7 linked regions of the Homo sapiens genome follow. The protein of the gene in region 5 interacts with the protein of the main gene of each other region in a pairwise test. Each region holds a gene or a part of one and is shown on either strand. Other genes may lie near its edges. The genes, in order: QRICH1, CPNE7, FIGLA, CWF19L2, LHX3, TSEN54 and PARVG.

The links.
Region 1: the proteins of LHX3 (region 5) and QRICH1 interact in binary tests that used the Homo sapiens proteins (3 or more experiments, as listed by UniProt).
Region 2: the proteins of LHX3 (region 5) and CPNE7 interact in binary tests that used the Homo sapiens proteins (3 or more experiments, as listed by UniProt).
Region 3: the proteins of LHX3 (region 5) and FIGLA interact in binary tests that used the Homo sapiens proteins (3 or more experiments, as listed by UniProt).
Region 4: the proteins of LHX3 (region 5) and CWF19L2 interact in binary tests that used the Homo sapiens proteins (3 or more experiments, as listed by UniProt).
Region 6: the proteins of LHX3 (region 5) and TSEN54 interact in binary tests that used the Homo sapiens proteins (3 or more experiments, as listed by UniProt).
Region 7: the proteins of LHX3 (region 5) and PARVG interact in binary tests that used the Homo sapiens proteins (3 or more experiments, as listed by UniProt).

What each region holds. Positions count from the first base shown.
Region 1 is NC_000003.12:49,032,140-49,035,071, forward strand, and holds part of QRICH1 (transcriptional regulator QRICH1), read right to left. Parts: intron 1,090-2,932; coding exon 981-1,089; intron 635-980; coding exon 483-634; intron 135-482; coding exon 44-134; intron 1-43. UniProt on the Homo sapiens protein: Transcriptional regulator that acts as a mediator of the integrated stress response (ISR) through transcriptional control of protein homeostasis under conditions of ER stress.
Region 2 is NC_000016.10:89,589,258-89,592,757, reverse strand, and holds part of CPNE7 (copine-7), read right to left. Parts: intron 2,862-3,500; coding exon 2,807-2,861; intron 1,752-2,806; coding exon 1,700-1,751; intron 1,632-1,699; coding exon 1,498-1,631; intron 561-1,497; coding exon of another isoform or gene 558-560; exon of another isoform or gene 1-557. UniProt on the Homo sapiens protein: Calcium-dependent phospholipid-binding protein that may play a role in calcium-mediated intracellular processes.
Region 3 is NC_000002.12:70,780,644-70,784,143, forward strand, and holds part of FIGLA (factor in the germline alpha), read right to left. Parts: intron 1-3,500. UniProt on the Homo sapiens protein: Germline specific transcription factor implicated in postnatal oocyte-specific gene expression.
Region 4 is NC_000011.10:107,447,826-107,451,325, reverse strand, and holds part of CWF19L2 (CWF19-like protein 2), read left to right. Parts: intron 1-3,500.
Region 5 is NC_000009.12:136,195,750-136,198,939, reverse strand, and holds the end of LHX3 (LIM/homeobox protein Lhx3), read left to right. Parts: coding exon 1-32; intron 33-119; coding exon 120-288; intron 289-1,196; coding exon 1,197-1,615; 3' UTR 1,616-2,690; downstream 2,691-3,190. UniProt on the Homo sapiens protein: Transcription factor.
Region 6 is NC_000017.11:75,519,528-75,522,381, reverse strand, and holds part of TSEN54 (tRNA-splicing endonuclease subunit Sen54), read right to left. Parts: intron 974-2,854; coding exon 872-973; intron 678-871; coding exon 49-677; intron 1-48.
Region 7 is NC_000022.11:44,194,425-44,197,924, reverse strand, and holds part of PARVG (gamma-parvin), read right to left. Parts: intron 1,771-3,500; coding exon 1,712-1,770; intron 1,579-1,711; coding exon 1,510-1,578; intron 1-1,509. UniProt on the Homo sapiens protein: Plays a role with ILK in promoting the cell adhesion and spreading of leukocytes.

The sequences.
Region 1 (2,932 bases), on a different chromosome or scaffold from region 5:
ACACATGCGCACACATGGACAGCAAGTCACAATAAAGCCTCACCATTTGAAGAGGTAGAAATCATAGAGCTTGATGGGACATCTCAATGGATTCTCTGGATTTTCCGTCTGTTCTGCATACATGTCATCTGTAACTATAAAACACACATCCCCACCACCACAGACCTGGCATCAGACTGCCTTACCTCAGGCCCAGATCAGGAAACTTAGGCTTTCAGCCAGCCCAACTAGGAAATACAGGGTCGGGGGAGGGAAGGTATGAGGCATGGGCAGTGACTACTAAGGGAAGAGGCAGCTATTCTGTCTGGGGCTTCTCTGCTTCTAGGAGGAAAGTTTGGAATTTTTGGCTGGGGAGAAGGGAGTGGAGAATTTTATCCAGCAAATCCCAACCTTTACACTTATCACTAGCCTCACAGGCACAAGGGCAGGACAGGGCAGGACAAGTAGCACCTGTTTTTGCCATCCCTGCCTCCTTTCCCTACCTTTCTGGCCAGTCTGGTGTATTCCAAGGGCCTTCAAGTACCGGATACTCGTGCTTTTATCCTTGGGATTAGAGGGGTTCTTCTTTGTCTGTCGCAAGACCTTGGAGAAGGCCAGCTTCATGTGCTGGTCCACTGTCTTCAATAGGAAGTACCTGGATCACAAGTAAAATGCAAGGCAGAGGGAGGGGTGCCGGGAGGATACCATGACTCATCCTCTGCCCACTGGTGCTTCAGAGGAGCCACTGCCCACATTCCCAAGATCTGGGCAGGCCCGTACCCAAGCAGTGTCCAGTGCAGGAACCACATCAAGATGGATGGTAGGGGTCTGGCAAGGGTGTTTGCCTCACTGGTTACCAAATAAAATGCAGCCAAGTGGGGTTAGGGCTTTCAGTAGCCCAGTTTCTCAAATATATGTCAGAGGAATTCAGAAGGCCTCTTGGATAGCTTCCACACTCTTCACTGGACAGATGCCAGCAGTGGAGCCTCTAGAACACTTACTTGGTATTAAAGAACATGAGGGTGGTCAGCAAGGTGGAGGGGGAGTGAGCCCCAAGCTGCTTGCACTCCCATAGCATCTCCTCAGTCACGTGGCTGGGCAAGACATAGCCTAGGAGGAATAGAGTACTGTCACAACAAGAGGATGGCAGGTGGTCTCTCAAAGGTACAATATGGGATGTGTGAAGCATAAGGACCACACAGGAGTATAAATTTCATCAGGGGACTCTCCCTAAAGTGTGGCAAAAATCATCTGGAAAGCTTCTTAAAACACAGATAGCTGGGTCCCAATCTGTTTCTGAGGTGGAACCTGATGATGAGCACTTCTAACACCACACTTGAGAACCACAGCCTTACATGATTGTTGTTACCCTCTAATCCAAGGCTAACACAGGGCAAAAAGACTGCCCTCAGAGACAGTGAAGTACAGAAAACTATAAACCAAACTCTGCATATATGCATAATTCTCTGAGAGTGTACAGAGCTTTGCATATTTTCAAAGGTGGTCCAGGACCCAAAGAACTGGCATGCACGCCCGTTTGCCCTTACCAAGTCTTCTCTCATCTCAACTGTCTCTAAAAAGCAAGGCCGGCCAGGCGCAGTGGCTGATGCCTGTAATCCCAGCACTTTGGAAGGCCGAGGCGGGTGGATCACGAGGTCAGGAGATTGAGACCATCCTGGCCAATATGGTGAAACCCCGTCTCTACTAAAAACACAAAAAATAGCCGGGTGTGGTGGCGGGCTCCTGTAGTCCCAGCTAATCGGGAGGCTGAGACAGGAGAATGGTGTGAACCCAGAAGGTGGAGCTTGCAGTGAGCCGAGATTGCACCACTGCACTCCAGCCTCGGCAACAGAGCGAGACTCCCATCTCAAAAACAAAAAAACAAAAAAACAAAAAAAACAAAAAAAACGGCTATTGTCATTTCTTCTCTAGATAAAGAGACTGATACTCTTTGGGGGATTTTATTATTATTATTATTATTATTATTATTAGCTAAGATACAGGGTCTCTTCTACAATATTTATCTTTTTTTAAAAAAGGAAGACCAGGCATGGTGGCTCACGCCTGTAATCCGAGAACTTTGGGAGGCGGAGGTGGGAGAATTGTTTGAGCCCAAGAGTTGAAGACCAGCCTGGGCAACATAGCCAGACCTCATCTCCACTGAAAATCAAAAAAATTAGTCGTGTGATGGTGCACATCTGTGATCCCAGCTACCAGGGAGGCTGAGGTGGGAGGATTCCTTGGGCCTGGGAGGTCAAGGCTGCAGTGAGCCGTGATCGCACCACTGTACTTAAGCCTGGGTGACAGAGTGAGATCCTGTCTCAAAAAAAAAAAAAAGGGAAAAAAAAGAGATGGGGTTTCGCTCTGTCACCCAAGCTAGAGTACAGTGACACAATCATGGCTAACTGCAGCCTTGAGCTCTTGGACTCAAAGACTCCTCCTGCCAGTTTCCTGAGCAGTTAGAAATACAGGCGTGAACCACCACGCCTAGCCAATATGCCAGTATTTGAACTATTACAAGATCCCCCCCACAGGGCTGGTGTTACTGTAAGACCCTGGTTCATAAGTGAGCCCAGAGCTAGGTACAGGCAAAGGTCAATAATTTGAATAAGAGCCCTGGTCAGCCAGGTCTGCACCAAAGAAAGATGACATTTGAATGACTACCAAGCCCCTTCATGTGCTGAAGTCAGTCAGTATGCACATGTTTGTGCACTGGGTGCATAATGAGATAGGAGCAGGCAACAGTATTCTCCTGCAGGGTTTCGGGATTCTCCAAGCAAGCACAGTGTGTGACACTTCCTGGAAGCAGAAAAAAGAACATTCTGCCCGATACACTCCTCTTCTGTGTTCTATGCTCTTGCCAAAACAAAGCTGGCTCTCTAATAGTGCATTTCCATCTCTTTAAGGCAGTTCTGACTCTATTTTTTGTCTACTTTTCGGCTATTTTGTGACC
Region 2 (3,500 bases), on a different chromosome or scaffold from region 5:
CAATAAAAAAAATTTGGGCTGGGCGCGGTGGCTCACTCCTGTAATCCCAGCACTTTGGGAGGCCGAGGCGGGTGGATCACAAGGTCAGGAGTTTAAGACCAGCCTGGCCAAGACTGTGAAACCCCGTCTCTACTAAAAATACAAAAAATTAGCCGGGCGTGGTGGCGGGAGCCTGTAATCCCAGCTACTCGGGAGGCTGAGGCAGGAGAATTGCTTGAACTCGGAGGGTGGAGCTTGCAGTGAGCCGAGATTGCACCACTACAGCTTGGGTGACAGAGCAGGACTCTATCTCAAAAAAAAAAAAAAAAATTGAAAAAGAAAACATACAAATACAACAACTACACAGACGTGAAGCAGGAGCGCAATGTGTGAGCAGCTGTTGGCCTCACGGGTTGCAGGACCTCAGAGCTCTTGTAACTTTTTGGTGAGTTTAAAATTATTTTGGGCCGGGCGCGGCGGCTCACACCTGTAATCCCAGCACTTTGGGAGGCCGAGGCGGGTGGATCACGAGGTCAGGAGATCGAGACCATCCTCGCTAACACGGTGAAACCCCGTCTCTACTAAAAATACAAAAAAAAAAAATTAGCCGGGCATGATGGTGGGCGCCTGTAGTCCCAGCTACTTAGGAGGCTGAGGCAGGAGAATGGCGCGAACCTGGGAGGGGGAGGTTGCAGTGAGCGGAGATTGCGCCACTACACTTCCAGCCTGGGTGACAGAGCGAGACTCCGTCTCAAAAAAAAAAAACAACAAAAAAAAGAATGCCGGGCACGGTGGCTCACGCCTGTAATCCCAGCACTTTGGGAGGCCGAGGCGGGTGGATCATGAGGTCAGGAGTTTGAGACCAGCTTGGCCAACAGGGTGAAACCCCGTCTCTACTAAAAATACAAAAATTAGCCAGAAGTGGTGGCGGGCGCCTGTAGTCCCAGCTCCTTGGGAGGCTGAGGCAGGAGAATGGCGTGAACCCCGGGAAGCAGAGGTTGCAGTGAGCTGGGATCACATCACTGCACTCCAGCCTGGGTGACAGAGTGAGACTCTGTCTCACAAAAAACAAAAGAAAAGAAAAGAAAGCAGCAGGCTGGCTGTGGCCCCAGAGACACATACAGGGCCACACGGTGGCAGAGTAGAATCCAGTGCAGTTCTCGGCACCGTATCATTTGTGCAAAGGAAAGACACATGTAAACAAAATGACGATACACACACAGCCAAACAGTAGACATGTGCGCGGCCTTGTGGTGCCCAGAGGAAGAGGAGAGGGGCAGCCTCGCTGCAGCCATGGCCGTGACCGTGTGAGGCGATGGACAGCCCTGTGCCCGAGACACCTGCACCTTTGAGGGAGACGTAGTCAACCAGCTGGGCCCCCGCCCTCCTGAGCTCTGTCCTGCCTGGGGGCCTCTGCGCTGGCTGTTCCCTCTGCCAGGTGCCTCCCTGACGTCCACGCGCTGGTGCACACACAGCCGACCCCACACCAAGCATGCACCACACCCCCCGGGCACCTACAGAGGCTTTCCCGGTGCTCTCCTCGGCCGCCGCCACGCGTGCCACCTTGGAGATGATGGGCGCCACGTTGGTGGGGCCGTAGAGCTGGACCCTGGGCAGGCAGTTCTGGTAGGCCTCCACCACGCCCTGGATGCCTGTGGGGGGCAGGGGGTGAGCCCGGCCCCCCTGCACTCCCCTCCCCAGGCCTGCCTCGAGCTCCTACCTTCACACTCATCGTCCTCAGGGTTGAAATTGATGGCAAAGTCATGGGACACCTGGGTGGGAACAAGAGGGCTCAGTCAGCTGCTCGTTGCAACACACCCCACTGGCCCCATGTCCCTCGGTCAGCTGCTCCCCCCGTCCCCAGCCCCCATGTCCCCCAGTCAGCTGCTCCCCCCGTCCCCGCCCTCATGTCCCCCGCCTACTAAAGAGGGCTCGGTCAGCTGCTCCCCCCGTCCCCGGCCCCCATGTCCCCCAGTCAGCTGCTCCCCCCGTCCCCGGCCCCCATGTCCCCCAGTCAGCTGCTCCCCCGACCTGGCCCCCATGTCCCCCACCTACTGAGAGAGGTAGGCTTGGAGTTTCTAGGGGAAGCCAAACCCATGGGTGACCATGTTCTGCAGAGTCATGAAACAGAGAGGGAGGCAGACCTCCCTGGATCCAGCAGTGCCTGAGGCTTACATTAGCCAATAAATCCCCACACACCATTTTTTCTGCTGAAGCCAGTTGAAGTTTTTTGTTGTTTTCTTTTTTCTTTTTTAAAACAGAGTCTTGCTCTACAGGCCAGGCTGGACTGCAGTGGTGCGATCTCAGCTCAGTGCAACCTCTGCCTCCCGGGTTCAAGCAATTCTCTTGCTTCAGCCTCCCGAGTAGCTGGGATTACAAGCATGTGCCACCACGCCCAGCTAATTTTTGTATTTTTGGTAGAGATGGGGTTTCACCATGATGGCCAGGCTGGTCTGGAACTCCTGACCTCAGGTAATCGGCCCGCCTCGGCCTCCCAAAGTGCTGGGATTACAGGCGTGAGCCACCACGCCTGGCCGAAGCTAGCTGAATTGTTATGTGCAATAGAGGATTCCACACTAACGTCCTTCCCTATCTCCTGAAGGAACACGGAGTTGGCCTCCAGACACCCCTCAAGCTAACAAGTCCTAGGAGGCCAAAGGCCAGCCTCTCTGGCTAGAAGGCTGGGGTTCCCGCTTTGCACCCCAATCCCATCCTACAGTCTCCGGTTCCCAGCAGGCAGCCAGGGCTCCCTGGGCCAGGCCGTCCTCTGCCTGGGAGGGCACGAGAAGGGCACAGCTCTGAGGTCTCAGGTTCTGGGCTCTCCTACCTCATACTTGGGAGGGATCCGGGCTCCAAACCCCAAAGCGGAAAACCTCTTGTCACTGGAAGAGAGGCAGGAGGTCACCAGGAGGCCCTGACCTCTTGTGGCTGCAACAGGGGCCACTTCTAGGGAGACATGACTGGCGCCCAAAAGACTGGGGGTGCCCAGGCCTGGTACCACGGCAGTAAGCACCTGCCAGAGGTGGGGAACCGAGGCTCAGGGCAGCAGAGGCACAGGCCTGTGTGCAAGGGGACACGGTCCTGCCGCCCGCGAGCCTGCCTCCCAACTCCACGTTTGTGTACATGCTGTCCCCCTGCAGACGCCTCCCCGGGGGCTCTCAGACCACGGGAGGGGTCCTGTGGGGCCAAGGAACCCACTGTGGCCCTCACCAACCCAGAAAGAGAGGTCTGTAGGGTAGGGAGCTCAGGGCATCCTCTCCCAAGCCCCAGGCCAGGGGTCTGTGTTGTGGTAAGAAGCTCAGAGCACAGGGTTTTGTGCCGGGCCCTCCCTGGTAAAGCATACGCGGGTGAGCCCCAAGCCTCTGTGACTTCGGTTTGCTATTCTGGCAAAGCGGGACACAGACGTCCCCCCAGGACCATGTGCAGAGTCTATGCGGCAGCCTCCAGTAGGGCTACCCAGCCCTTCCTCGCAGAGTCTCTTTTTTTTGAGACGGAGTCTTGCTCTGTCACCCAGGCTTGAG
Region 3 (3,500 bases), on a different chromosome or scaffold from region 5:
TCTCAGAGATAAATGTTAACAAAGAGAAAACTAGCCAGAAAGACGGCTGCACAGTAGGTACTTCAAAGAAAATGCGAGTTCTTCTCCCTCCTAAACAATTCAGTACTAATGTCATCAGTTGGGTCACAGTTAGGTAGTGAGAAGCCACAGTGACCCAAGTGAAGTGGTATCAGAGCCCAAGCAGGGTGAGATGGCACCCACATACAGAGGCAGCCCAGCGCAGGATATCAGAGATCCAGCAGATGAGGGGCATATTCACATGGGGGGTGTGGTCCAGTGCAAACATGGTACAGCCCAATCAGGATGAGAACGGCAGCCCCATGAAAGGAGTGGAGGCCTGGCCTGGGGACTCAGAGCCCAAGCTGGGTAAGAAGTCCATGGAAAGGGGCAGTTCAGCATGGAGTAGAGAAACCTGAGCTGAGTAGGCCAGGCACTTGTGTGTGCAGGTGATTTAGCGAGAGCAGGGAGAGGAGGAATCCACATATGAGGGGACCGGCGTGGAACGTCAGAGCCAAGAAGGAGGTTTTTGCGGAGGTACAGCTTGCCATGAGTGTTAAAGTTCAAGTGGGTGAGGAGAACAGCCATGTGGTGAGGGGATGGCAACAGAGATGGGAGATGGGTTATACACAGGGGCATCCTCAGATAAGTGGCTGATTCCAGGGCTGGGATAGAAAAGTACAAGATGAGCTTGGAACACCTTCTGCCAAAAAGGAAATGATCAAATAATCGTGATGACATATCAAACAGAAAGGCTGCCAGCTTAAGGAGCTTTCGCTGGCCACAGTGGGGACAATTGGAGCAATAAAATAATAAAAAATGATAGTATATAATAATCCACTGAATTAAACAGAAAACCATGAGCTCATACTAATATAAAAATGTCTGTATAAAAACAACCAAAATGTTCTAAAATATTTACGTGAACAGTTAAACTGTGGTACATCCACACCACAGATGACTACTCAGCAAAAAGCAGAGGAACAGACCATTTATACAATGTGGATGATCTCAAGGGCATCATCTGAGTGGAAAAAGACCATCTGTAAAAGTCACATAATGTATGGTCCCATTTTTATAGCATTCTCAAGATAAATTATAGAGGTGGAGAACAGATTAGTGATGTCCAGGAGTTTGGAAGAATGGAGGGTTGGGAGCAGAGTGTAGGTGTGACCATAAAGGGGCAGCGTGAAGATCTTTGTGGTGATGGAACAGTTCTGCATCTGGATTGCAATGGTGATTCCATGAATCTACACGTGTGATAAAACAACATACAACTATGCATACGTGGTACCAATGTCAGTTTCCCAGTTTTGATATTATACTATAGTTATGGAAGATGCAACCATTGCGGAAAACTGGGCTACGGATGCACAGCACTTTTCTGTACTATTTTTGCAACTTCCTGTGAATCTATAATTACTTCCAAATTACAGATTTGATAAATAAATATAGAATGTTTGATGAGTAATGAGATCTTTACATAGTTTCAAAGCACCTCCTCACAAAATACATATTAATTACAAAAGAAAAAGATTAAAGTGAAAGGCTTGGCAGTCACCACCTTAAGCAAGTGATCAAAGTGAATATCCTTAGAAATAGAATAAATCAAAATCTGCCCCATGTAATAGGATGCAATGAGTAGAAAACAGCATCACTTTTGTTATTCCTGCCGACGATGCATATCTGAATCTAATCGAAAGGAAACAGACAAATGCTGATCAAGACACGCTCTATAAAACAACTGGCCTGTAATCTCCAAACGTGTCATGGTTATAAGTCACAGAAGCACCAAGAAACTCTCCTTCCAGACTGAAGGAGCCATGGCAACTAAATGTAATTCATGATTCTCAGCTGGGTCTTTTTGCTAGAAGAGACATTATTGAGACTACTGGTGAAACTTGAATGGGACCTGAGGATTGTATGGCGGTAACGCCGCAACATTAATCCCCAGACTTAGTGGTTGCATTGTGGCTATGCAGGGGAATGTCCTGTTTGTAAGAAATGTACACTGAAGCCTTAGGGGTGATGGGACATCAGGTTGACCCTCAAATGTGCCAGGAAAAAAGTTCTTTGTACTGCACCTGCAACCTTTCTATAAGTTGACTATTGTTTCAGACTAATTTTTTTAATTTTAAAAATTAATGGCTGGGCATGGTGGCTCATGCCTGTAATCCCAGCATTCTGGGAGGCTGAGGTGGGCAGATCACGAAGTCAGGAATTTGAGTCCAGCCTGGCCAACATGGTGAAACCCCATCTCTACTAAAAATACAAAAATTAGCTGGGTGTGGTGGTGTGAGCCAGCTACTCGGGAGGCTGAGGCAGGAGAGTTACTTGAACCCGGGAGGCGGAGGTTGCAGTGAGTCGAGATGGTGCCACTGCACTCCAGCCTGGCAACAGAGCGAGACTCTGTCTCAAAAAAAAAAAAAAAAAAATGATTTGAATGTGAAAGGATGAAAAATCCTTGACAAAACTGATGAAATACTAGAATGCTTCTGCAAAAAAATGGCACTCTTTACAATCAGGCCTCAGAAGTCATACTTGACAGAAGTGACATGCACTGTCTATAAAAATCTCAAACGTCGAGTCTTCCTTGGTTCATTCTACAAATTAGCACTCTTCCAATTAACAACAAACTTGGTTGGCTAAAAAGACTAAATATTAAGTGTTTTACTCCCTTTTTTGAAGGAAATTCCAGTCAGAACATCTCTGGCTTTTACTAGGAAACGTTAGTCCCCACTCTAAATTAGTGTACTATACGTGGCCTATGCCCAGGTTCAATTATCCTTGGAAAACAAGGACCTCCCATCAAATGTACTTGCTACTAGTACTGCCAAGCACAGGCCTGCTCTGCTACTGCAGAGGCTCCTGTCCCAGCCCAGGTCCAACAGGACTGGCAGGAAGGTGTAGCCAGGTGGCTCACCATGACAGTGACATGATGACACCTACCTGACAAGGATCAATGAGGATTAAGTGCAAGTAAGATTTTCACCTTGATACTAGCATTTGCAGAAGCATTACTCTTCTTAGATAGTCAGGCTCAAGGTCTAGCTCAGGTCATTTTTTTTTTTTTTTTGAGATGGTGTCTCACTCTGTCACCCAGGCTGGAATGCAGTGGCATAATCTCAGCTCACTGCAACCTCCCCTCCCAGGTTCAAGCGATTCTCCTGCCTCAGCCTCTTGAGTGAGTAACTGGGACTACAGGTGCCCGCCACCACGCCTGATTTTTAGTAGCAATGGCGTTTCACCATGTTGGCCAGGCTGGTCTCGAACTCCTGACCTCAGGTGATCCGCCCACCTCGGCCTCCCAAAGTGCTGGGATGACAATTGTGAGCCACTGCGCCTGGCCCCACTCTTTTGTTGTTGTTGCTTTTAGTCATTCCATGTCAGCTCATGTAGTAGCAACAGGAATTCTGTCTCCTATGGGTTGACTGGCCAGCGAAATCTTATATCTCAAGTGGTCAGAATATGAAAATCTACACTGAGCATATGCACAAATGAAT
Region 4 (3,500 bases), on a different chromosome or scaffold from region 5:
ATAGCACTGTTGTATCTCTACGTAACTTTGATGTTATATTTTCATTGCTGTCCCATTCAAAATATTTTTTACTTTACTTTTTCTTACTCATGGATATATAAGAGTTTTTAAACTTGCAGATATTTGTGGATTTTTCTAGTTTTTTTTTGGGTTATTGACTTTGATTTTAATTATTATGTTATACTCTGTATAATTTCAGTTTTTAAAAAGTTTTTGAGACATTTTATTTTCTAGCCTATGATCTATTTTGGTGAAAATTCCATATGTATTTGAAATGAGTATGTATTCTGCCATTGTTAGGTATAGTGTTTTATAAATGTCAATTAGGGAAAGTTGACTAATAGTATTAAGTTTAGTGTTAATGATTTTCTGTTCACCTGTTCAGTCAGTTACTGAGAAAATAGTATTGAAATCTCTTAATTGTTTTGTGGATTTTACCTATTTCTGCTTTCAGTTTTGTCAGTTTTTGCCTTATGTAATTTTGAAGCTTTATTAGGTACATAGACAGCTCCTTGATGAACTGACTGTTGTTACGAAGTTTTCGTTTTTATCTTTGGTAATACTCTTGTCTGAAGTCTCTTGTATCTCATATTAATAAAGCCTCTTCAGTTTTCTTTTTTTGTGTGTTTTCATCGTCTTTTTAAAATTCTTTTAGTTTTAATGTACCTTTTTTATATATTGAAAGTGTATTTCTTGTAAGCAGTGTATAATTGGGTCTTGCTTTTTTATCTCGCCTATCAATTTCTTCTTTTTTATTTTATTGATTGATTGATTTATTGATTGATTGACAGAGTCTTGCTTTGTTGCCCAGGCTAGAGTGTAGTAGATCACTGCAGCTTCAACCCCTGGGGCTCAAGTGACTCTCCCACCTCAGCCTCTTGAAAGCTGGGACTACGGGTGTGCACTTCGACGTCCAGGATATATATATATGAGTTTTTAAATTTCCAGATATTTGTGGATTTTATTAGGTTTTTTTGGTTATTGACTTTGGATTTAATTATTATTTTATTGTACTCTGTATAATTTCAGTTGTTAAAAAGTTTTTGAGACATTTTATATTCTAGCCTATGATCTATATATATTTTGTAGAGATGTGGTTTTGCCATGTTGCCCAGCCTGGTCTCAAAGTCTTGACCTTAAGCAATCCTCCCACCTGGGACTCCCAAAGTGCTGGAATTACAAATGTGAGCCACTGCATCTGGCCTCTTCCTTTTTTTTTTTTTTCTTGAGATGGAGTCTCACACTGTCACCCAGGCTGGAGTGCAGTGCCGCAATCTTGGCTCACGTCTCTTACTTTTCAATTAGATGTTTTTTGTGCTCTCTAATCTGTTAGCTGTTTATGGCTTTTAAATTTTTTGTTAAAATTCATTAAAATTATATCAGCCAAATTTATGTGGCTACTATATTCGACAGTATATAGAAAAATTCTTTGAATAGTACTGGTTTGGATTATTTATGTTTAATGTAATAATTGATATGGATGAGTTTAAGTCTACCATGTTGTTATTCCTTTTCTATTTTTTCTTTGTTCTTTTTTCCTTTGTTCCTTCCTTTTCCTGTCTTTTGGATCGAGTGTTTTTTAGCATCCCATTTCATCTGCTGTAGGCTTATTAGGTATACCTTATTTATTTTTAATGACTGCTTTAAGTCTTATGCATATTTTAACTTACCATACTCTCAAATAATATATAATTTTACTTTTATAATTAGACTTTCACCAAAATATACTTCCATTTTCTCCTACCATATTTTTTGCTATTGTTGTCATATATTTTACTTCTACATATGTTATAAACCCACATTGTTTATAATTTTTAATGTCATACATTCTTTTTATTTATACTTTAGTCAGTTATCTTTTAAATAAGTTACACATATGAAGAAAGTCTTTTATATTTACCCACAGATTTATCATCTCTGATATTCTTTATTATTTTATGTAGGTCTGAATTTCTGTCTAATACCATTTTCCTTTTGTCTGTAGAACTTTCATTAACATGTATTATAATATGGATTTGCAGACATTGTATTCTCTCAGCTTTTGTTTGAAAATTTCTTTTATTTCATCTTCATTCTTTTTTTCTTTTACCACAAACTCAGAAGTTCCTACTAGCAATCTTCATTTTTCAGATACTTGGCTAGATAAAGAATTTTAAGTTTATAGTGTTTTCTTTTTTTTTTTTTTTTTGCACTGTAAAATGTCATCCCATTGTCTTCTGGTTTGCATTGTACATATTGAGAACTCTGTAGTCATTGTAATATTTTTTCTCTGTATGTAGTGTGCCTTTTTATTCTGGATGCTTTTAGGGCTTTTTTTTTCATCATTATTTTTCAGTGAATCAATTGTGATATGTCTTGGTATTGATTTCTTTGTGTTTATTCTACTGTCTTAGTTCATTTGGGCTGCTATACCAAAACTAACTGGGTGGATTATAAATGACAGAAACTTATTTCTCACAGTTTGGGAGGCTAGAAAGTCTAAGATCGAGGCGCTGGTAGACTTTGTGTCTGATGAGGGTTCAGTTCCTCAGAGATGGCTGTCTTCTCACTCTAACCTCATATGGCAGAAGGGAGTGCTCTTGGGCTATGTTTTATAAGGGCACTAATCCCATTCCCAGTCATCTCCCAAAGGCCTCAGCCCCTATTATCATTGTCTTGGGAGTCAGGATCTCAACATAAGAATTTGGTGGGGGACACAAACATTCAGAGTGTAGCATCTGCCTTAGGTTCATTGTGCTGCTTTGATTTGTGAGTTTACAGTTTCCATCAAATATGAAACTTTCAGGCTTTTTTCGAAGTATTTTTTTTTTCTGTTCCCTCTCATTTTGGTAGTCTCCTTAAAATAATGTCTCACAGGTTGATGAGCCTGTGTTCACTTACTTTCTAGCCTTTTTCCTTTCTATGCCTTGGGTTGGGTATATTTTATTGCTATGTCGTGAGCTTCAGGTTTACTGGCCTTTTTTTTTTTTTTTTTTTTTTTTTGTGACGGAGTCTCGCTCTGTTGCCAGGCGGGAGTGCAGTGGCGTGATCTCAGCTCACTGCAACCTCCGCCTCCTGGGTTGAAGTGATTCTCGTCCCTCAGCCTCCTGAGTAGTTGGGATTACAGGTGCTCATCACCACGTCCAGCTAATTGTTTGTATTTTTAGTGGAGATGGGGTTTCACCATGTTGGCCAGGATGGTCTGGATCTCCTGACCTCGTGATCTGCCTGCCTCAGCCTCCCAAAGTGCTGGGATTACAGGTGTGAGCCACTGCGCCTGGCCGACTGGCCTTTTCTTTTGCTGTGTCTAGCTTACTGTTATCCCTATCCAGTGACATTTTCATTTCAGGTACTGTATTTTTTTTTTATCATTAGATGTTTCGTTTGGATCTTTCTAATGTTTTTCAGTTTATCTCCTCATTATCTTTACATTTTCCCTTCCTTGAACATATTTATGATAGCTGTGTTAAAGTCTTGGTTTGCTGTTTCATTTTCTCTTGTTTTTTCCTGTTCTGTTTCAA
Region 5 (3,190 bases):
CCGAGACGGGCCTGGACATGCGCGTGGTGCAGGTCAGCGCTCGCCCCTGCTTCCCTCCCGCCCGCGGCCTTGGGGGCCCCCGCAGAGCCGGGCGGCCGCTCACCCCGCCCCGCCCCCAGGTTTGGTTCCAGAACCGCCGGGCCAAGGAGAAGAGGCTGAAGAAGGACGCCGGCCGGCAGCGCTGGGGGCAGTATTTCCGCAACATGAAGCGCTCCCGCGGCGGCTCCAAGTCGGACAAGGACAGCGTTCAGGAGGGGCAGGACAGCGACGCTGAGGTCTCCTTCCCCGGTAGGCGGAGGGATCGCGGAGCTCGGGGGGGGACGAGCGCGCGTCGGCGGGGTCGCAGGGGTCCCAGGGAGCCCGCGGATCTGAATTTCCCATGGAGTTAGTGGACTCCTTAAGTTCTACTTTCAAAAGCATTTCACTTACAGAACCTGCTCCCCCAGCACCCTCCCCGCCCTGGGTGGCCACTCCGGACCACTGCTTTTCCCCTGGTGGGGACACAATCCCTGTGGCCCGACCTGTCCCCAAGCTGGGCGCCTACGGGCTTTCTCATGGGGGGGTGGGCGTGTCCAGGCCGTCTCTCTGGCTCCTAGCCCTTGCAGTGATTTTTAGGAGAATGGGCAGTGCATTTCGGGAAAGACTGAGTCGAAGTCCCAGCTGCTTGGAGTTGGGGGAGGGGGCTACCTGGGGTCAGGGAGAGAAGGTTCCATACCCTTCTGTGGGGCCTGGATTATTTATTTCATTCTCCGGGCACCGGGGATGCTGCGTCCCCATCTGTTGATGCCCATCCTCAGAATGTGGACAAGACACTCTCTTTTGGGCTGCCTCGTGACCCGGGCTACTCACTCAGCCACTCTGGAACTAAATATCCTTGTCTGCAAAATGTGGGTGGTGGTATCTGTGCCCCCTTCCTAGGCTGCTGTGGGGCTGGTCCTGAAAGCCTGGGCCCTGGCTGGGCTGTTCCTGACTCTGATCCCACCAGGCCTGAGACACCTGGGCTGACTCAGGGGTGAGGGCAGTGGAGGGGCAGGGGCAGCCATGCTCCAACAGTAGAAGGGGCCTGTTATGACCTGTCATGTGGTGTGGGGCAGCCACTCTTTCTCCGACCCAGGGGTGCCTCCGCCTGCAGGATGGGACTCTGAGGGGCCGCAGGTGGAGGGCAGGCGCTGACTGAGCCTCTGCTTCTGTTGCAGATGAGCCTTCCTTGGCGGAAATGGGCCCGGCCAATGGCCTCTACGGGAGCTTGGGGGAACCCACCCAGGCCTTGGGCCGGCCCTCGGGAGCCCTGGGCAACTTCTCCCTGGAGCATGGAGGCCTGGCAGGCCCAGAGCAGTACCGAGAGCTGCGTCCCGGCAGCCCCTACGGTGTCCCCCCATCCCCCGCCGCCCCGCAGAGCCTCCCTGGCCCCCAGCCCCTCCTCTCCAGCCTGGTGTACCCAGACACCAGCTTGGGCCTTGTGCCCTCGGGAGCCCCCGGCGGGCCCCCACCCATGAGGGTGCTGGCAGGGAACGGACCCAGTTCTGACCTATCCACGGGGAGCAGCGGGGGTTACCCCGACTTCCCTGCCAGCCCCGCCTCCTGGCTGGATGAGGTAGACCACGCTCAGTTCTGACCCAGGCCCGGCTCCACCCTGCACCTCACACGAGGGAGCTGCCCCTGGGTGGGCGGCTCGGGGCTGCTGGGGTTTCCGAGGAAGTGGGGCCAGGGCGTCAAGGGAGGGCTGGTGCCTTCGGAGCCTCCCACTGCCGACCGCACAGCTCCCTCTCTGGGGGCTGAGGGACCCACCTGGCCCCTCCTCTGACACAGGGCTGGCCCGCCAGGTGGCCTCCCAGCAAGCCAGCCTTTTTTGTAAGCAAATTTCTCCCCTTTATTGACCAATTAACTGAGCACTTGCTGCTATTTCTAGACATGAAATGTCACCTTGCTGAGGCCCAGCCCAGCCCAGCATAGCCCGAGGGCTGGAAAAACGCTTTCATCTCTAAAACTGAGAAATCATCATAATTGTGCTTTCACTTCCCAGGCTCCATGTGTCTTGGAGCCGTCACCCCGAGGCTCCCTCTTTAGGTCGGAGATTGGCCTTGCCTGTCGAGGCAAGAGGCTGCAGAGGCGGGGACACACCTGTGTCCTCCGGGAGAGGCCCCCTCCTCTCCCCAGACCACAGGGGGCCTCTCTGCCTCCAGCCCCACCTTCCCCGGGAGAAGCTTTCCCCAATCCCCAGGTCTCTAGATCATTCTGTTCTCGAGTATCCTGTGGAGGAGGCAAAAATGCCTGGCGCCCCTTCTCTCCAAGCTCAATTCTCTAAGCCCCTCAGGGTCTCCTCCTCACCCCACCCCAGGCCCTTGGTGTCCAGGCTGCACCCACAGATGTCTGTTGCCAAACAGCCTGCCCTCCCTGCCGGAGCCGGCTCTGCCAGCCCCAGATTGGGAAGTCTCCCCGCTGGAGAAGGGTGGGGCTCCTCTGAGCCTGCCCTGCCTCCTCCATCAGATCCTTTGGGAAGAAGTTTCTGGGAGATGCCCGCAGCTGTGCGTGCCCCAGACACAAAGGCTGGCCTGTGTGTAAGTCAAAGTCACTCCCGCAAACCTGAATCTCGAGCTACCTATTGGTTCTGTGAATGTTCTGTGTCTTTTATTTATTCTCGGGTGATCAGCTCTTTCCAAGACTTCAATAAATTTGTCAGTTACAGTCAATGGAAGGCCCGCGTTTTTTTGAGGCTGCGGGGGTTGGGGAGTGTTGGGTGTGGGGAACATTCTGTGAATGTTGAGAGGCAGCCCTGGAGGGGCCCTGAGTCCCCCTAGTTCGTTGCTTGGGCTGGCACCTAGTATGAATTTGGGCTCTCTTTATCCCTGGATCTTGGCCATGCTCATGAGCACTGGAAGGAGGTGGGGGGAACAGCCCATCCCTTCCTGATGGAGGGGAGGGGTTGCGGTCTCCACACCCTGTCCCTGGGAGAGGCAGGGGTTGGGATGTCCAGAGAGCATGATGGGGGTGGGAGGTGGGCCGTGTGTGCCATTCACAGCTTGCAGCTGGCACCAACCCCAGGACATAGGCTGGTAGGGTGACCAGGCTCATGGTCATGGAAGTCTCTCCAGCTTGGATTCCAATCCTGGCTCTTCTAACTTGCTGTGTGACCCTGGGCTGGGGGCTGGAACCCTCTGAGCCCTGCTTCCCCGTCCCCACCCCCCAACCC
Region 6 (2,854 bases), on a different chromosome or scaffold from region 5:
TCCTCAGCTGCCAGTGGCCCTCGAAGATGTGGCAGGCTGAGGGGGTACCTGGGGAGCTGGCCTGGCCAGGACTCAGCAGCGGGGTGACGGGCTGGCCCCACAGGTGAGGGGCCCGGCGCTGGCTCCTCTGCACCTGCCGCCGCTGCAGCAGCTCCTTGTACTCCCGCCAGCTGGAGCACCGCTGCACCTCGGGATCGGCGTTGACATCTTCCTGGAACTGCGCGGCCTCCGCGTGGTGCTCCCGTTCCCGCCTGGAGAGCTTCTCCTTGCGCTGGTTCAGCTTCTGGCACCAGGACTCAGCGTCTGTCTCCCGCCCAGCCACGTTGGCCGGGAGCAGCTCTGGGGCTGGGGCGCGCAGAAGGGTGTGGCGGCTGTCTGAAGCCATGTTGGGGAAGGAGATCTGCTCGAAGTTCCAGCGCCGCTTACCGGCTCCCGTGACTCCGTTCTCGGCTCTGCCACTCTCCCAGCTGCACCCCACCCCCTCCCTGGCCGGGCCAGGGCTGGGGCCCAGGGACCCCAGAAGCTGAAAGGGGCCCCCTGGGCCCTTCATGGGGCTTGACTCCTGGGGTTTCTCCTCTGGGCATTGGCTGGGCTGGCTGCAGGGAGGTGGGCTGGAGGCTGCCAGACTCTTGGGTTGCAGGGAGTTGTCCAGGGCCTTGGCCTTCTTATTAATGGACCTGAGGGACGTGGGGGAAAAGCAGCACATCTGCCCCTGGTTGCTAAGGTGCACACGTCCCATGGGAGCTGAAGGCAGGTCCCCTAGTGTCTCCCTGAGCCTGCATGGGAGCTGCTGGTTCTTAGAAAGCCTGTGCATTTTCCAAGGTCCCAGACACCAGCACTCCCTGGGGGGCCACCGTGATGTGGGAGTTACCGAGGGCTGGAGCTGCTCCTCTTTCTCTTGCCATCTCCATCCTCCAAGTGCTGCACGCTGGCATCCAGGTTAAGCTGCCTCTCATACGGGGACAGGACAGAGCTGTGGGGTGAGAACAGCGGGTGGGCCACTGACCCACCTCCTCAGCCTGGGGATCTGGTGGGATGTGTAAGGAAACGGGCCAAGAGGACAGTCAGTGGGCCAGGATCGGAGCCACACCCAAGTGCTAAGGCCCTAAGCAGACCCCCATGAGGGGTACAGGCCCAGCCAGGGGGCCCAGCCATGTGCCTCTGCCTAGGCAATGGCCCAGAGGAGCTAGCAAACTTGGTAAATATAGAAAAATAAAAACCTTGGATAACTATTGTTAACATCTTTCTTTCGTTTATGTACACACTAATCTCTCTCCATATATTTTTTTCTAACAAAAATGTCATTGTACTAGCATACTGCTTTGTGATCTTTTTTTTCACTCAATAATATATTGTGGACACAGCCCCGTCACTGCAGCATTCTTCCCTGCTGTGAATTTTTTCCTTTTTCTTTTTTTTTTTTTTTTGAGACACAGTCTCGTTCTCTCACCGGGCTGGAGTGCAGTGGCACAATCTTGGCTCACTGCAACCTCCATCTCCTGGGTTCAAGCGATTCTCCTGCCTCAGCATCCCGAGTAGTACCGGGACTACAGGCGCGTGCCACCATGCCCAGCTAATTTTTGTATTCTTAGTAGAGACAAGGTTTCACCATGCTGGCCGGGATGGTCTCCATCTCCTGACCTCATGATCCACCTGCCTCGGCCTCCTAAAGTGCTGGGATTACAGGTGTGAGCCACTGTGCCTGGCCTCCTGGCTGTGAATTAAGGCTTTAAGGCAATGCTGTTCAAAAAAGAGCCACTAGCGACAGGTGGCTATTTAAGTTTGCTTTTTTTTTTGAGATAGAGTTTCGCTTTTTCGCCCAGGCTGGAGTGCACTGGCAAGATCTCGGCTCACTGCAACCTCAGCTGCCCAGGTTCAAGCAATTCTCGTGCCTCAGCCTCCTGAATAGCTGGGACTATAGGCGCCTGCCACCACACCTGGCTGATTTTTTTTTTTTTTTTTTTTTGGTATTTTAGTAGAGACAGGGTTTCACCACGCTGTCCAGGCTGGTCTCGTACTCCTGAGCTCACGCGATCCGCCCGCGTCGGCCTCCCAAAATGCTGGGATTATAGGCGTGAGCCACCACACCAGCCTATTTAAGTTAGATTTAAATACATTTAAATTAAATGAAATTAAACATTCAGTCCCACAGTTGCTCTAGCCCCATGTATTAGACATCACAGACACAGAACATTTTCATCATTACAGAAAGTTCTATTGGACAGAGCTGCTCTAAGGGATAACCTCTCATTTGTGTGAGCCTGCCTCTTGTTCAACTCTTGTTTGCAAGTACACTGATTTTGCACAGTGAGTGTGTTCTGTGTGACTCCTCACTAAATGCAAGCTCTGTGAGGGCAGTGATTTTGCTCTTCTGTTCTCAGCGATGTGTACAGGGCCTGACCCCCAGCAAATAATAAATATCGTTGATCATTCTCACAGGTGAACCACTGTACACGTCCACGATTATTTCCTTAGGATAGGTTCCACTTTCAGAAAAGAAAAGATGTAGAGCTGGGCGTGGTGACTCATGCCTGTAATCCCAGCACTTTGGGAGGCTGAGGCGGGAGGATCATTTGAGGTCAGGAGTTCGAGACCAGCCTGGGCAACACAGTGAAACCCCATCTGTACTAAAAATAAAATAAAATAAAAAAATTAGCCAGGCATGGTGGCACACGCCTGTAATCCCAGCTACTTGGGAGGCTGAGGCAGGAGAACTGCTTGAACCCAGGAGGCAGAGGCTACAGTAAGCTGAGATCATGCCACTGCACTACAGCCTGGGCGACAGAGTGAGACTCCGTCTCAAAAAGAAAAGAAAAGATGTGCCTGCTTTAGAGCTTTTGTGACATACTGTAAC
Region 7 (3,500 bases), on a different chromosome or scaffold from region 5:
CCATTATTTTACCAAGGGAGAGATACAGATAGAACAGGTAGAATGTAAATCTCAGAAATCATCCTGTTTATACCCACATAAAATATAATAAAACTACAAATCTCTCACTTATTTCATGCCGGCAGCGTGCCAGGTAATATACCAAACACGTGGGGCTCACCAGCTCATGTATCACTCACAATTCTACCAAGTTGCTATCTTGTACCCACTTTATAAGAAGAAGAGCCTGAGGTTCAGAGAAGTCCAGTAACTCACCCAAGGTCACACAGCAAATGTGGAGGGTTCTCAGCAGACCCCAGGGCCCATAAGTGGTGGAGGCAGGAGGGAAATGTGTGTCTGTCTGGCTACAGAGCGTGATACTTCCACCCTGCCATGCTGCCACACCATATCACACACAAACTTCTCACGTGGCCACCATGTGAGGTGGTTATAAGCACTAACTCTGGCCCCAGCTGCCTGGGTTCAAATCCCAGGTCCACTACTTATCACTGTGTGACTTTAGACAAGTTAATTAACCTCTCTGTGCCTTAACATCCTCCTCTGTAAGTGGGGTAGTACAGTTCCCACTTCAGAGGATTATGGAGAGGATTCAATGAGTTAACATGGAAAGCATTTTGCCCTGGGACTGGCACATAGTGAGGGCTTTATTGGTTTTAGCTACTAGGCATGGGAGTACATTAACCCCTCCCTCCCCAGCCAATGCCCATCCAGAGTCTCTCTGAGAGGTCAGCAGCTCTGGCTACGATCTTCATGAGCCAACTGGTCCATCTGGGACCAGACTCCCTCCCCACCCCAGACCCCAGCACCCAGCAGAACCCAGGTGGCCAGATGCCTACGTCATGTCCCATTCAGGCCACTGGCATCCAGCAGACTCCATGCCCACTCTGCAGGCCCCGGGCTGGCAGCCGGTCTGCTACTGTGCACCCCCTGCTCCCCTGCAGTGTGGGAAGCCTACAGGGACACAGCTTCACTGTGGAAAGCCACAGCCCATGGTGGGTGCTGACCCCCTGAGATTCTGCTCCTGCTCCTGGGAAAATTCGACTTAAGTCAGCCGGGGGAGGGGCTGGGCTCCTCAGGGTGCTTGTGAGAGACATGGAGCCTGCAGACGGCTGGGCTGCGCTGTCACCTACGCCTGGCACATGGGACAAATCTAATAAATTCTGTTTGGGCGAACACAACCACGCAGGGAAGACTCATATGCTTCAAGTCTTGGCATCAGCTAGTCTGAGATTAATTATAAAATAAAATTATAACAATGAGAAGCAGTGACAGCCGAGGTGACTCCAGCTTTGTGAAGTGTTCCCACACCTCCACCCCCGGGATCCCACCATGTCCCTGGTGACCACTGCTGCCTGCCAGCAACAGTCCCACCGGGGAGGGGGACCCTAAGGCTCCAAGAGGTGATGCAACCCCCACCACACAGCAGGTTCCCAGGGCCTGCAGAACCCTCTTTCCTTCCTACGGCCAGTGGCCCTGCCCTGCCTGGGGACGCCGCAGCTCAGTCCCTACCTGGGTGTCCAGATTCTGCACAGACAGGCCCAGGCGGTCCAGCTTCTGGTTGACAAAGTTCACGATGGCCTAACCAGGGAAGAACAAGGGCCTAGCACACAGCAGGTGTGATGGGAGGACCCGTGATTCCCTCCTACAGCGCAGGTGGGCAGTGGGTGGGGTGGGCAGCCTGAGAGCCGCTGAGAGCTTTGATCTCTCCTACCTCTTTCACTGCGTTCACTTTCTCCGGAGCCAGCTTAAATAATTCATCAAAGACGTCCTCTGCAGACACAGATCCAATAAACACCTCATTACGATGCTATTATCTTTGTGCCAAACAGGGAATTTTTTTTTTCACAAAAGTTTCTTAGAATAACCAGTCCAGAGGGAGCTGTCGTTTTACATCATGGTTCTCAAATAAAACAGACCTGGATTTGAGTCACTGCTCTCCTGGCCGTGTGGCCCCAGGGGAGTCACCGTCTCTCTCTGTGCCTCCCTAGCTGGGGTTGTTGCAGAGATGGAATTCCATAGCAGATAACACACATGGCCCCATGGCACAGTGACTGGGCACACAGTAGGACTTCATAAACAGCCACTCTTCCTGCAGCTGACACCTGTTACTACATCTGCACAGCTGCATCCCTTTATCTGCCAGCTGGCACTCCCTCCTCCCAGGGCCCTACTCCACTCCCCAGGGCCACGGGAGCTGCCACAGGTGGGTGATCAGGGTCCATGAGTCTCCTCCCCTTGGTTTTAAATTGGCTGAGTGAGGACTGCTCCCTGCTGCCTCCCCCCGCCCCCAAGAGTGTCTGAACCTGCTGCCTGCAAAAGGCCAGCTCTTCAGCAACTCAGTCACTCCCTTGGGGTCTGGGAACAGCGGCTCAGGCCCTGGGGTCCAGCCTCGGGTGCCCATGTCCTCAGGCTAATGCCCTTTGTGCACTAGCTGGATTCCTGCTATTTGCAGCTAACATACCTCCCATGGGGACACTGGTCCTTGGGCACCAAATACACAGACTGGCCTGAGTTTGCTGTGGCTTCTGCCACTCAGCAGCTGTGTGACTCTAAGCAAGTCACAGCACCTCTCTCTGTTTCAGTTCCCTTGTTAGTGAAGGGGGAAAAGTAGCACCAAATAGCATCATGCACGTTAAAATGCCCCTGCTCTGTGTCCTTTCTTCACCCTCTGACACCCACTTCTCATGCTGCCCCCTGCCCAAAATACTGCTCCCTGGGCAACCCCTCATGTCCTCAGGCTGCCCCTCCTGCTACATACACAGATCCTCAGCCAGCCCTCCTTGCCCCTCCTTTCTCCTTTCTCCCCAAACTCCGCCTTCCTCAGCCCCCATTCTCAGAAGCTCCTGGCAGGTTATTATCTCTACCTCTGCAGGGAAGGTGCCCCTCATAGCATCCCTGCCCACATAGCTATGTGTCTAAGTGGGGAGGGTATAGGGAGGAAAAATAGTGTTAGGATGGATGGATATGGGTGAATACATAGGTGGTTGGATGGGTAGATAGATGAATGGGTGGATGAATAGGTGGGTAGGTGGATAGATGAATGGATGGATGGATAGGTGTGTGGGTGGATGGATGGATAGATGGATGGATGGATGGATGAATATATGGATAGGTGGGTGTATGGATGGATGGATGGATAGATGATGGATGGGTAGGCGGATGGATGAATGGAAGCATGAATGGATGGATGGAGGGATGGATGGATGGATGAATGCGTGGATAGGTGGGTGGGTGGATGGATGGATGGATGGATGGATAGGTTGATGGATGGATAGGTGGATGGATGGATGGACAGGTGATGGATGGGTAGGTGGATGGATGAATGGAGGCATGAATGGATGGATGGAGGGATGGATAAATGGATGGGTGGGTGGATAGATGAATGGAAGAATGGGTTGATGGATGCATGGGTGTATGAATGGATGGATGGATAGGTGGGTGGGTGGATAAGTGGGTAAGTAGATAGATGAATGGAAGAAAGGATGGATCAATAGATGGAT